Regions from separate parts of the Homo sapiens genome. Here all the other regions are linked to region 1. Evidence: fine-mapped expression QTL. A gene starts in region 1. Each other region holds a variant in brackets. All regions are shown on one strand. Distances are from middle to middle.

Region 1 (2,657 bases):
ATAATAAGCCACTCATTTTATACTTCAAATCCATTTGGTAGCTGAATCTCCAAATCCACTTAGTGGCGTTAGGTGATTTTTGTTTTTTTTAACTCCCTATCTCAAAATATGCAGTTTGAAATAAGTGCATATCTCAAAAATAGCAGCATTAACAGGACAGAAGAGAAGGCACTAAAGTGGTGAAGGCTGTGACGCAAAGAAGACGTTTCCAAATCTGTTTCATGGCTAACAGATCAAAATCTAACACAGAAGGGGCATGGGACTGAGCCTGAAGAAGTGGAAACTACTCCTGGCCATGTGATCTTGGGCAAGTCAGGTCACCTTTCTGGGCCTTCTCTGAAGGGGGTGAATCAGTTGTTCTCAAAGATCTTTTTCTTTCCAAACTGTTCACTGGGTGTTTCCAGAAGACCCGCATTTTCTTAAAGCTATCTGGCCGCGCTACAATTGCAAAACAGAAAGGCTTTGGGATGAAGGTTGCAATACAGATAACCCTGGCCTAAAAACTGATAAGCTTTTACAATCCCAAAACATTACTCAGCAATCCAGGTCCTGATGTCATCCCAGAATCAATCACGCCAAGATAACCTAACAGAGTAGACAGGGGAAAATGCGAGAGAAAGTTCTTTTGCTTTCCTGACGAGTACAGGTAAAGTTGAGGTCAAGTTAACGATGATGGTCTGCAGTTGACCATCCTTCTCCCTGAGCTACTGGAAAACCACATTATTAAAGGAAACTGCTTTAGAAGTGCCCAAGATGAACCTCTTGGGATGTATCAAACCGCAGAAAACCGGACACCGGCAAGTTTCTTTTTTCTTTGAAACTTCATGTCGCTCTCAGAAAACGCAGCAGGTCCCAAAATGGTACAAGCAGAAAACACAAGCCACTTCACGGTCCGCCCAGGAGCCAACCCCAAGCTCCAAGTAGGACTCCCCCCACCCCCTTCCCTTTCGTTTCTCTTCTTTTGCTTTAGGCAAGTGGCCTGGGGCCTGCCAAGCAGCGCCGGGTCCGGGTAGGGGCCGGGGGCCGCGGGGAACTTTCCTCGGCTGCACCAGAGACAATGCCGGGAGGGCGCCCCATCGGCGGGGTCCGGGCCGCCAAGCACGTCGTCCCGGGCCCTCCCCCGGAGGGGGACGCGAAACCCCCCAGGGCGGGCCCCGTCCCCGGCCCCACTGCAGGGGCCCCCTCTCCCGAGCTGGAGGCGAGGAGACCTCCCCCCCCCACCGGGCGGCCTCGCCCGGCCCCGCAGAGCCTGGCCGCGCGTCCCGCACACGCCCCAGCCCAGGGCCGGCGCCCTCCCCGCGGAGAAGGACACCCCGCTGCGAGAGGAGCCGGGAGCCCGCCCCGCGCCCCGTCCCGGCGCCCTTCTTCGCGCGAGAGACTGGGCAGGGGGCGCCCGCGACTGTGGGCGACTCCGCCCGGCCCCGCCGAGCGCGCCCGAGCGCCCCGCAACTCACCGGGACCTGGCGGGCCGCTGGGCATTATTCCATCGCGGGTTCGGCCGGGCGCTCGCGGCTCTCGGGTGGGAAAGCGAACTGCGACCGGGAAGCGCCGGCTGGGCGGGAGGCGCGGGCCCGGGGCTGCCCAGCGCACAGTGCTCGCCCGCGGCAGCGGCCAGGCCAGGCGAGGCGCGGGAGCCGAGCGCGGCGCAGGAAGGGGCGGGCGACCATGTGCCGAGGGGGAGGAGGCCGCGGCGACGCGAGCGGCTCGCACGATCCCGCTCGGCGGCGGAGGGCGCGGGTTTCAGGAAATCCAAACACTTCGACAGGAAATCGGAATCCTGACTAAGCATTCCCGGCCCCGAGCCGCTCCGCGCCGGGGGCTCCCGCCTCGCTTAACCCTTGGCCCGCCGGCAGCCACGAGGGGGGCGTGGGAGGGGCCCCAGACCTCGGCCGGGGTCGGGCGTCCTTCGCCTTCCGCCCCATGCCCCGGCCGGCCGGCCTCCTCCCCGCCTGAGGTGGAAGGGGTGGGATTTATCCACAGAAAACCCTGGACGCGGAAGGTGCCTTTCTAAGGCCGGGACAGCGGCAAAGGACGTGCCTGTCTTCCATCTGCAGAGGATGGACCTGCACTGTCCTGGCCGTTACCCCTATTTTCAGTAAAGGAATGATTTCACCAGGCTGCCCCCTTTCACCACTTCCTCTCTGCTCTTATAATTTTATTTTTGCCCAGTGCCAAGGGAACAGGACCTTCCCAGTCAGGATAGTATAGGAACAGTATGGAGAGTAATTGTGTGGGCTGCAGGCTCTGTGTCCGGTTGGAATATGGCCTTTTTTCTACTCATGTTACCTTGAGTAACTCGCTCAACTTTCCTGAGCCTCAGTTTCCATTTATGAAATGGATGTTAATTCCACCCTCATAGGTTTGATCTGGAAGCTGAATGTTTAGACAGGGACTGGCACATTGGAAACGCCCAAATAAATGATAGCCATGCTTGTCCTTATTATTACCATTAAAAGACATCAGAGAAAGGAGGATTTTAATTTGTGGGATGTATATTGTGCATATCTATGTCTACTTTCAAAGTCAGAGACAGTAGTCTTTCTTTAGAACTTAATTTCCCTCCTAATCATTGGGTGATTGTTTTTCTTTGCAGCATTTCAGAAACGGCTCTCTGCAGAGGAAATGGTTAGTGGCTGTGGCAGACCCCCTTCTGGTGA
Region 2 (2,657 bases), 460 kb before region 1:
GAGGCGGAGCTTGCAGTGAGCCAAGACTGTGCCACTGCACTCCAGCCAGGGCGACAGAGCAAGACTCCATCTCAACAAAAAAGAAAAATAAATATATATATATGTATAAAAAATAAACCTGTTAAATCTGCTACATTAACAACAAAAAAAAGTTTTTAAATAAGAAGACACCATTGGGCAGCAGGCACTGGGTGGGAGTTACTGTGCCAGGTCACCCTGAGTGTGGCCCCACACAGCCCCACCGGCAGGAAGGGATCCAGGGCAGGGAGGGATCCAGGCCAGTCCCAGAGCAGGGACCAGGCAGCGCTCACGTGCGCTCTGCACCAGCCACAGGGATGCGGGGACGCTGGGGACGCGGGGATGCGGGGACACCGGGGACCGCCCGGGAGCACGTCCTGCGCATCGCCGGGCTCCGCGAGGCCTGCAGAGGACGCAGCCCTCTCCCTCCCGCTGGGTGCGGAACCGGGTGCAAGAGGCCGAAGCGCTGCCCCATAAAGCCGATCTTCGCCGGGGCCCCGCCCAGGCCCTAACGAATACATCCCATTGGCAGGAACCGGCAGCAGGTCCTAGGAGAAGCCAGCCTCTGATTGGAATCAACCGGGAGCTTTTTAAAAATATTGTTCCCCGGAATCGGAGATCAGGGTTTACAGACAGCTCCCAGGTGATGGTGCTGCACAGCTGGGGCCTCCGTATTTTTCCTCTGAATGCCTGAGGAGGTGATCCTGCTGAGCCGCCAAGGCGGGGAACACCGCCCACCAGCAGGGAGAAGCACTATTTAGGGCTGTGGCAAGAAGTCCTATCCTTAACAGTCCCCTGCCTCTCTCTGGCTGCAGGGACAACAGTCAGAGGGCTGCAGGGGCCTGAAGCCAGACACGGGACACAAGCTGCTTCCCTCTCCTTGCAGATGGCTGAGCACTTTCCAGTTGCCCAGGACCTCCCCATCCAGTGTCTCCCAGGCAGGGCTGGCAGGGAGGCCCTCTTCCCCACCCACTGAGCATCCAAGTGCGGGAGGCCTAATCCATGCACCTGGCACTTAGGAAGCCCACAGTCACTGCTGTTACTGTGGTTGCTACCCTCATCTCACTGGGAAAGAAGCCGGCTCAGAGAGATGGGATGAGTCACCCAAGGCCACATGATACTGGGGGCAGGGC[T/A]GGCACAGGAACACTGGGCTCTAGGGCTCATTCTCCTCCCTGTACCCCAGGATGCGGCCACTGCCCTGCCCTCCCCCAACACCTTTTTTCCTCCCTCTTACAGAAAACAGGCAGGCTCTACCAGTCAGGATAACACTTCATTCATTGCACACGCTAGGGCTTTAATTCATGGGACCCCACCTGTCCTCCTCAAAATAGTCCTGGGTCCTCTAGGAATGCCCTCCAACCACCAAGTGGTGGGGGTTTTTTTTGTTTTTGTTTTTGTTTTTTTGAGACAGTTTCGCTCTTGTTGCCCAGGCTGGAGTGCAATGGCGCGATTTCAGCTCACTGCAACCTCCACCTCCCAGGTTCAAGCAATTCTCCTGCCTCAGCCTCCCGAGTAGCTGGGATTACAGGCATGTACCACCACGCCAGGCTAATTTTGTATTTTTAGTAGAGATGGGATTTCTCCATGTTGAGGCTGGTCTCGAACTCCTGACCTCAGGTGATCGCCTGCCTCGGCCTCCCAAAGTGCTGGGATTACAGGCGTGAGCCACCACGCCCCACCCAAGTAGTGGTTTTTAGTACAGCTTTGAAGCCTGACACACCAGGGTTGCCACTCAGTAGCTGGGTGATCTGGGACAAGTTTCTTAACCTCTCTGGGCTCAGTTTCCTCTTCTGTAAAGTGGGACTGATAATATTTACCAGTAAGGGTTGTGGTGAGGATTATTAGGTGAGATCATCCAGCGGATGGGATGGGCACCACAGCGGCTGGCAGCAAGTACTAACAGGCAGTAGGTGCCACTATCCAGAAGGCCGGTCTTTCTCACGGCCTCTCCACGCTCCATCCTGGCCCGGGAAAGCTCCACACTGCTCACCCTCTTGCCTTACTCACCCCCTTGAAATTCCCCAGGCTCCATGAGCCGGTGACCCACTGCCTCTCGCTTGCCCAAATTCCTCTTGGGTGCCTGGTCCACCCTGGAGACAATGGTGACCCACCATGTGGCTGGAGGTACCACATCCTCCCCCACCCCCCAGAAATAGTAAATGAGAAGTAACCTTTTTCTATTCCCCATTCCAGACTTCCTTAATTAAAATCAAATATTTGCACACTCTCCAAAGCCTATAAACCTGATTGCTCTCAGAAAAAAAAAATGCTTCAGAGCAAATAGAGTGAGTGTGGCACAGGTTGTCTGGCAGGACCTCAGGGTACAGGGCAGCAGGTCCTGAACAACCACACCAGCCCAGAGCAGTCGCCCTCCACTTTTCTCAGTCCACCTCCACAACAAATCAATGCAACATTCACTTTGCAAAAGGCCCACTGAAAAGCCCCTGAGGGTGAGCAGGTGTTGGGAAGGGATGGAAATGAGGAACAGTCTACCCCAGCCCTACCCTGAACACTTTCAAACCAGCCACTTCCCACCGGCATGGCTGCCCAGCTGTTAAAATACTGAGTCCTTCCACACAGGCTGGGAAGTAGCTGCTGCCCCAGGAGTCCTCACCCTAAGTGTCCCTCCCCCAGCACTC
Region 3 (2,657 bases), 270 kb before region 1:
TTTCTTCTGATGATCTCTCTCTGACCTAGGGGACATTCGTCTACCAGATTGCAATCTGGTAACAAAATCCTAGCTATCCTCCAAGTTCAATGACAAGTCCCACCACCTCCTTCAAGGTGCTAATACCTTCTCCTCAGTCCTCCTGGTCAGATGTCTCTCTTCCTGTTTTTTTTTTTTTTCTTTTGAGACAGAGTTTTGCTCTTGTTGTCCAGGCTGGAGTGCAATGGCGTGATCTCGGCTCACTGCAACCTCTGCCTCCTGGATTCAAGCGATTCTCCTGCCTCAGCCTCCCAAGTAGCTGGGATTACAGGTATGCGCAACCACACCTGGCTAATTTTGTACTTTTAGTAGAAACGGGGTTTTGCCATGTTGGTCAGGCTGGTGTTGAACTCCTGTAATCTAATAATCCACCTGCCTCAGCCTCCCAAAGTGCGGGGATTACAGGCGTGAGCCACCGCGCCCAGCCGTCTCTCTTCCTCTTGATGCTCCATGGTACCCGTCACTGTCCAGCCCCATTATGATTAATAATGGATCTGACTTACTTCCTATACCTGGACAATTAACTCCTGAGCGGAAAAGCCTTGCTTTATCTCTGTCCCAGAACTGGGCACAGTAGCTGATCTTTGGTAAAAGACTAATACATATTTGTGGAAAGGGAAAAAGCAAAGAATAAGAGAATAAAGGGAGGATGCATTAGCTATACAAGTTAGCATCACCATTACTAGCGAAGGCTAATATATGTATACTTTACAAAGCATCTTCTATTTTGAAAAACTCTTGTTTGTGTAGGCCAAACTCTTCCTTATAAACTTAGAGAATTTAACGTGAAAATAGATTTCTAAAGTCAGGTGAAATCAGTTTTGCTGCCAAAGTACTGCAGAATTCAGGAGACTGAGAGATTCACTTATTTCTTTAAAACTTTCAAAGGAATTAAATGTTTCCAGGAAAACTAAATTTGATGAAAGATAAAAAATTCCACCCAATACTAAAATCAGGGACCATTAGAACACAGGCCAAAGTTTCATAACTGCCCAACCACACTACAAAGCCAAAAGTAAGTTAGTTAATCCAGGTCTTCAATAAACAAACTTAATCTTAAGAAGGTGAAAACTTTCTACTTCAATATATTATTTTTATTTTTGAAAGACACTTATATAAGGTACAATTTACTTTGAAAAAAAGTTATCATCAAATTTATGTAAACAACAATTTGATCATCAAAAAGGTTTTCCTTAAGAGAAATATCCTAGACAATAAAATATATAAATAAATAATTTTAAATGCCACTTAGAATCATCACAGCTGTCAACACATACAAGGTCGCAGGCACTGGGCTAAGCACTCCACATGCATTCTTTTTCACTTTTTACAGCCTTACAAAAACCCTAAGGTGGTTGCTACAGAATCGTAACCCAGCTTGACGAGTGAGTATACTGAGGTTTAGTGAAGTACCTGATTAAGAATACAGTTAACCAGCTGCAGAGCCAAAATGTTGACTCATCTAATTTGTCTAACCCAAGCTTTGTGCTTTTGACATAATATTAATGCTGACCTCCTTAAATGTTT[C/T]AGTTGAATACAGGTATCTTTCTAAATATAACTATTGAAAAGAATAAGAAAGATCAAAGGAAATTATGAATTTAACTTTTTTGAGAGTATTTTATCTAGTCCAAACGACCTTTACATTATTTTGCTTATGAGAGCTGTCCATTCCATTTCTGGAAGGTCCTTCCATTATTTTCGGTATAACTTCCATCAACGAATACAGACTTTACTAATACAGACTTTACTTTTCTGGTAGAGTCTCCATGTGTAGCTGGCACATTTTCACACACAGACTCTACCAGAAAACCCATGAAAGTTAACCCAATAAGTAAACAAGCAAATGTGGCACCACAGAATCACAAACATAACAAAAAGATAGCCCTGCAATATAGGCAAACAAAAATGGTGCCAGTGTAGAACAATGGTATTTCTCAAAATGTAACACAAATTATATAGGAATCCATGTACAAATGCAAAGTATTCTTAATGCCCCAACTATTTAAATTCACTTATTTTAGATGAAACAAAACAAAACTGAAGACTCCAGGTGGAAATACATGGTGCAAATGGTGCAATAATAGGCCAAGGCCAAGGTGGATCGCGAGGTCAGGAGATCAAGGCCATCCTGGCCAACACGGTGAGACCCAGTCTCTACTAACAATACAAAAAAAAAATTAACTGGGTGTGGTGGCGTGCGCCTGTCATCCCAACTACTGGGGAGGCTGAGGCAGAAGAATTGCCTGAACCCAGGAGGCGGAGATTAGAGTGAGCCGAGACTGCACCACTGCACTCCAGCCAGGCAACAGAGTGAGACTCCGTCTCAAAGGAAAAAAAAAAAAAGGCAAAATGCCAAGTAAGAGAGTCAGGGTAGGGGGTCATCAGAAAGGACTCTTCAGTGACAGGGGATCATGCATCTGTAATAAGAGCTCCACAGGCGATCAAATTTAGGAAGAAGTATTTGTAAGTATTTGTCTTCTTGTAAGGAAGACAATATTTTTAAGCCCTAATTTGAGCTACTGATTTGTATAAAACACTGAAGATGGAAGACACTATTTCTTATCCATTTAGCTGAAAAAGGTCATTATATCACTTTATTTAGTCACGAGATGAAGAAA

Evidence for each region. PIP is the estimated chance that this variant, and not a neighbour inherited with it, causes the effect.
Region 2: its variant is the best candidate, but not a certain one, in a credible set for the expression of ASAP1 in whole blood (TOPMed, PIP 0.58).
Region 3: its variant is the best candidate, but not a certain one, in a credible set for the expression of ASAP1 in blood mononuclear cells (TOPMed, PIP 0.62).

What each region holds. Positions count from the first base shown.
Region 1 is chr8:130,442,006-130,444,662 of GRCh38, forward strand. It overlaps ASAP1 (ArfGAP with SH3 domain, ankyrin repeat and PH domain 1), which reads right to left and starts at 1,669. Exons shown (of 30, transcript NM_018482.4): 1 at 1,455-1,669. RefSeq lists silencers at 1,224-1,303, 1,354-1,513, 1,524-1,613, 1,654-1,753.
Region 2 is chr8:129,983,372-129,986,028 of GRCh38, forward strand. All of the region lies in intron 1 of CYRIB (CYFIP related Rac1 interactor B), which reads right to left. Among named protein-coding and RNA genes, the nearest start is that of MIR5194, 24 kb to the right of the region's middle. The variant T/A (reference allele first, on the strand shown) is at 1,152.
Region 3 is chr8:130,176,524-130,179,180 of GRCh38, forward strand. The region is part of intron 9 of ASAP1 (ArfGAP with SH3 domain, ankyrin repeat and PH domain 1); the gene reads right to left. Among named protein-coding and RNA genes, the nearest start is that of ASAP1-IT2, 93 kb to the left of the region's middle. The variant C/T (reference allele first, on the strand shown) is at 1,567.